Regions from separate parts of the Homo sapiens genome. Here region 1 is linked to region 2. Evidence: fine-mapped expression QTL. Tissue or cell type: atrial appendage. Region 2 holds a variant in brackets; the other region holds the start of a gene. All regions are shown on one strand. Distances are from middle to middle.

Region 1 (2,762 bases), 410 kb after region 2:
CTATATTCCACATATGACTTCCAAAGGTTTTGTAAAGATGAATTGTCCAGGATTAAGAGAGTGATTGATTAAGAGCCTACAGAACTGGGAAGAGGAGAGCTGCCAAGCTTTTCTTTATGTGTAGCACAGTGGAGCTACCCAGAGTGTGAGAAGCAAGAAACAGAGAGCCTTGCTAAGGCACGACGAAAAGGGGAAGCCTATTAAAAGAATGATCTGGAGGAGTGTGCAGTGAAGAAAATAAAGTAGAGCCAGCCTGCTGGGTCAGTAGCTAATAGCCCATGGGTTTACAACTAAGGAAGTTAAAATTCTAGCTAATGAGAATTGTAGACACCTACTGAGAGTGAACCGAAGGCTTCCTATTAACTTCCCTTCTTGGGTCTTTTTGACAGAACAGTCAGAAAGTTGTTTCCTATTTGTTTAGTAGCAAAAGAGTTGAAATGGAGGTTTAAAAAATGATGAAAGAGAAGTTGGAGGCAATCTCTTACTCAGCTCCTTCACGAGGTCCAAATACGATGTCTCCCCCACTCCACTCAAAATGTAAATCAGCATAGGTCACAAAAAGAGGAAGGACAGTTAAAAAAAAAAAAAAGAGTTGGGCCAAATAAGACATACAGCCAAGATGACTGAGACAATCAGAGAGGATTTGGGGTGTGGGGACTTCAAATTAATAAATCCGGTATTAGCTTTGTGGAATTAGCAGGATTAGGGTACCTCTTTCAAGAACACTGGTTGAATTTCATGGTTTCAATAGATGACCATTAGCTGTTATGTGCACCCCCCCCCCCCTTTTTTCTTGCAGAAGTTAAGAAGTCTGCTTAACTCGCAGGTCACCAAGAGATTGATTAAAGGCCTCTGGACATCATTTGGGTTTGGATAAATCTGTAGGGCCACTTTACAGACTGTCTCCAACTCCTGATCCCACTGTGGTTCTTTCTGAATTGATCCAGGTCCCTGCTAGCAAGTGAAGCAGAAAGAATCCAGGCTAGTTGTGAGATGACATACAGCAAGCAGGCTGAGATGATGGGGACATTTCAGAACCAAGAGGAGGGGGCGGGCAGGACACGGACTTGTCTCCCCCACCTTGATGCCAAGGTGGCATCTGGGAGATATCTCGAAGGGCAACGTCGAGGGGACTGCAAGCGTCAACCCTGGCGCGGCAGCACGGCGCCCCTCTCCGCGGGCGGGGAGCGAGCGCGTGTGCGCGAGAGCGCCGGGCGGCGGCGGGAGGAGGCGCAGGCGCGCTGCTCGCCCGTCTGCAGCCCCGAGCCGAGCGCCGCGTCTCGGGAGTTGATGGCAGCACCACTGTGCGGCCGCCCGGCCGAGCGCGGAGCGCAGCCACTCGCCGCTGCCCAGGGAGCGCCCAAGATGTGGGGGGACCGGGGCGGCAGCGGCCGTAGCAGCGCCAGGGACGGGGGCACGCAGCAGCCTCCGCTCGCCCGCCTGTCCTGACCTGCCTCGCTTGCCCCCAAAGAATGTCAGCCAAGTCCAAGGGGAACCCCTCCTCGTCCTGTCCAGCCGAGGGACCGCCGGCAGCCTCCAAAACCAAGGTGAAGGAACAGATCAAGATCATCGTGGAGGATTTGGAATTAGTCCTGGGCGACCTGAAGGACGTGGCCAAGGAACTTAAGGAGGTGAGAGGCGCAGGGGTGGGGAGGGAGTTCGGCACCCTTCGACCCCTCCGGGGTCCCCTTTCCGATTTTCAGCAGGGACAGCCAGATTTCCAAACTCCTGGGAAACTACAGAAAAGGCGCCTGCAGACGGACTTTCTTTGCTCCTGGAGTCCTGAGAGGAGTTGTTGTTGCACTTTTTAATTTTTTTTTTTAATCAGGAAGAAATCAACTAGTGTTTTAATCGATGGACCTGGGCTGGTGGGAGGGATGAACGCACGCGTGTCTCTGAATCTGTGTGTGTGACGACGGGGGAGAGGGTTAGCTGGGGGTGTGTCGGCAGAGGAAGTCGTGAGCAGCCCGGCTGGAGCGTGCAAGATGCTCCTCTCCTGCCCTATTGCTTCCCCAGAGTCCTTTGGCAAGTCCGCTGCCTATCTGTCAGCCTCCCCAAGTCAGGGCTGAAGAGGGGCCGGGTTCTGGGCCCTGGGCCAGATCAGGGAGGGCAGCCTGGAGGAAGCTTGGCTCAGACTACCCTCCCTGTCTCTCGAGCCTCGCTGTAGGGAAGGCGACCCGGGCTGCTGGCAGCCTTGGGGCTAAGGAGGGGGTCTGGGACTTTCTCACTTTCTCAGTTTCTGAAGCATCCCCTGCTCTCCTCCGAACGTCGTTACCAGTAACTCTGGGCCTTCCCGCCACCCTACCTCTGCTTCCTTCCTTCCACCCTGTCGCCACTTGGCATTGAACCCGAGAAGCAGGACGCGCAGGAGAGTGTATGTGTGGCCGGGGTCTTGCCATTGGCGTCCTGGCTCTCTGCAGCTGGGACTGCTTCGGTTCTTCCCCGCTTTTCCTATCCCACTTCGGTTCAGCCCTACTCCCGCCCGCCCCTAGCCCCAGGTGATCCAGATGGAAAGAAGCAGAGAAGGTGTCAGGGCTGAGGCTGCGTAACTCAGGCGGCGGCTCCGGGCGGGGGCGGGGGCCGGGCTGGGAGGGGTGGGGTCTCCCGAGCCAGGCTGGCTGCCGGCGGCGTCGCGGAGCTGGTAGCAGAGTCCCAGCGCGCCGCTCACTACTGAATGGGGTCCTGGTGCGGTTCTCGGTGAGGGAGTCCGCAGCTCCGCTGCGTGAGAGCTAAGACTAGAACTTCGAAGGTGGCGGTGGCTG
Region 2 (2,762 bases):
CTTTCCTTAAGAGAACAAACCTGTTAGTAAAATACATTTGTAAAGGCATTATTTGTAGCATTACATCTTAATCTGACCCAAGGGTTATGTTAACAGCCTATTACATGTCATTTCCGTTCTTCATCTTTGCCAGTTCATTCTTACTAAATAATTTCTTTAAGTGGAAACTTCCTATGAAAGATTGTCATTTTGAGGTTATGGGAATTTGGAAATTCTCTATAACTGAACATCAAGTAGTCAGTTTGTCAAAACTTCCTATCTCTTATCTATCAATCATATGCTTTTGAATCAGTTTGAGATAAAGCTTTTTCTGGCTGTGATGACTTTCTGATTTATTAGAATCTGCATTGTATATCTTTTGTTAGTAACCATGTGACTTGATACGGGAACAGACTCGTTTTCAAAAACGTTGAAAAGATCTATTCTGGAGAATTGCATCTTATTTTTCACAGTGACAACCCTGAGATTGTGGGATTTGCCTTTGGTATACAAATAAAAATTTAACTTTAGGCACCCAATCCAACATGGCAGAAATACAAACATCTTCAGGGCTATGCTGACTGCTGCTACTCATCTTAAACTCATAGAATGAATTGAAGCCAACCATTATGTGAATGGCACTCAAGAGCTGTGGGGACTTGTGATAGAGCCCAGGTGATATTTTTTGTCTCTCTACGTAAAAATTAATAGAAATATTCCACTTATGATTCCTTTAATCAACAATGAATATTCTTTCCCCCTGTGCTATAAGAAAATGATTAAAATTTGAGGGAGCATGCCATTTAGAATCCTTTGTAGGGCAGAAATGAGACTCTCTTTCTTGGCACCATGAGATTACCTAAGCATCCCATACCCTCTTTAGAAATGACAAGGAAAAGAAAAGACAGTTTAAACCATTGGGGCTTTACATAAAAGAGTCTGGAAGAAACAGTTTTAACTGGAGAGGACTGCAAAATCTTGTTAAGCAAACTTCAATTCCATCCACCCATCCCGGGGGAAGAAGATTAGGTCAGTTACAAAAAATAAAGAGGCTACATTATTCCATCTTTCCTTCACATTTTCATAAATACATGTTCTTTTATCCTGTTAACACATTACAGAACATACAAACCCTTTCATTAGAGATATAGTTAGTTACCCACCAGGTGCAGGAAAACATTTTTGGGGGTTTTCTGCCAATGTCTATGAAGTGTTGGACACAAACAGTGTCCTGATCTCCAAAGT[C/G]TTGGAGTACATGGTGTACTTCAAACTGTAGGGTGCTGAATGTTCCGCTGCACATGTCTTTGTCCAAGATTTTATTTGCCATGTTCCTGGAACTTTCACATTTCTGTCAGACACTAGTTATTCATTTGTTTACTTTTTTGGCTGTCTTGAGAAACTAAATTATATTTATATTGACTATCTTCTTTACTTTTTTCTCCCTCCCTTCCTCCATGTCTCTCCCTTCCTTCTTTTTTTTCAACTTAAGTGTTGTCACTGTTTCTATCTTTCCACTGAAGAGAGCTATAAATATGCCTGGCTTTTTCAAAGAGCAAAATGCAGACTTACGTCTTCAGTGTAGTACAAACTTACCAGAGCAAATTTTAATCTAGATAGGGGTGTAAAGACATGAGAATGTTCAATTCTGTAAGAACGTTCAATGTTAGTAAAACAGTAGGTTCCCTAAAATACTTGAGATTTTTCAGATACAAGATGTTTGGCAAAATTTATAAAAGCTGATATTTCAAATTCTACAGAACTGAATTTCATCGTTATTTATTTGAAAGCAATATTATTCAAATTAAGACTATTATACATTTCCTATTCTATTTTATTTATAGATTTCAATCAGTAGGTCTTCGTACTGCCAAAATTAATCTCAGAGTAATATGAGAAAAATGAACATGTTCTTAGTCCAAGAATAATAAGGGTATTTTAAGCAACCGGAAGGCCATTTGGGACAAATGAAATATGAGCTTCTGTTCCTGGGTATTTTGTCAAAGGAATTAGGCTGAATACGGCAATAACCAGTTTCTCTTATCTTTGCTTAAAATCAGTACAAAATAACCTTCTGGTGAAGGATAACAACAAAGCAAGTTTTAGTTTTCCAAAACTTCCTTTATCTGCTTAGAACAAATTCTGTCATAATTTTAGCTTAAGTTCATATGGGCAACTAAACGTGTTAAAAAAATAACATTAAAATATTTATAAAATTTATCCACAGATTGTTAGTAATTAAATATTATAAGTATTAAAATACATTTGCAAGGGTGTTATTAGTTTTATGTATAATTTAGTATATTCCAGAAATACGTGTGACTGTTGAGCATTTGTTAATTTCAGAGACATCTATACGGTGCTAGTAGTTCTAGTTCTAGCAGTTCAGCCATTAGCTGATGTACAGTAGTGTCACTTATTATTTTATTCATCGTAGGACTAAAAGCAAATTTCCTAGCCATAGTTAGACAGATGAGGTTTTAAAATATCCTGATTCGTCTGGGCACAGTGACACATGCCTGTAATCCCAGCACTTTGGGAGGCCGAGGCGGGTGGATCATGTGAGGTCAGGAGAGTGAGACCAGCTTGGCCAACATGGTGAAACCCTGTCTCTACTAAAAATACAAAAATTAGCCAGGTGTCGTGGTGCACAACTGTAATTCCAGCTACTCGGGAGACTAAGGCAGGAGAATCATTTGAACCCGGGAGCAAAGGTTGCAGTGAGCGAAGATCGCACTACGGCACCCTAGCCGGGTGATAGAGTGCGACTTCCGTCTCAAAAAACA

Which allele goes with the higher level. Alleles are on the strand shown, and positions count from the first base shown. SD is a standard deviation of normalised expression in the study named.
In carriers of allele G in region 2, the expression in atrial appendage of the gene that starts at base 1,286 in region 1 tends to be higher than with C alone (small effect, 0.29 SD a copy in GTEx).

Evidence for each region. PIP is the estimated chance that this variant, and not a neighbour inherited with it, causes the effect.
Region 1: PRR16 starts here. The variant in region 2 is fine-mapped to the expression of PRR16 in atrial appendage (GTEx, PIP above 0.99).

The regions. Positions count from the first base shown.
Region 1 is chr5:120,463,015-120,465,776 of GRCh38, forward strand. It overlaps PRR16 (proline rich 16), which reads left to right and starts at 1,286. Exons shown (of 2, transcript NM_001300783.2): 1 at 1,286-1,631. The coding sequence starts at 1,473. RefSeq lists a silencer at 1,205-1,254 and an enhancer at 1,660-2,161.
Region 2 is chr5:120,052,112-120,054,873 of GRCh38, forward strand. No RefSeq gene overlaps it. Among named protein-coding and RNA genes, the nearest start is that of PRR16, 410 kb to the right of the region's middle. The variant C/G (reference allele first, on the strand shown) is at 1,225.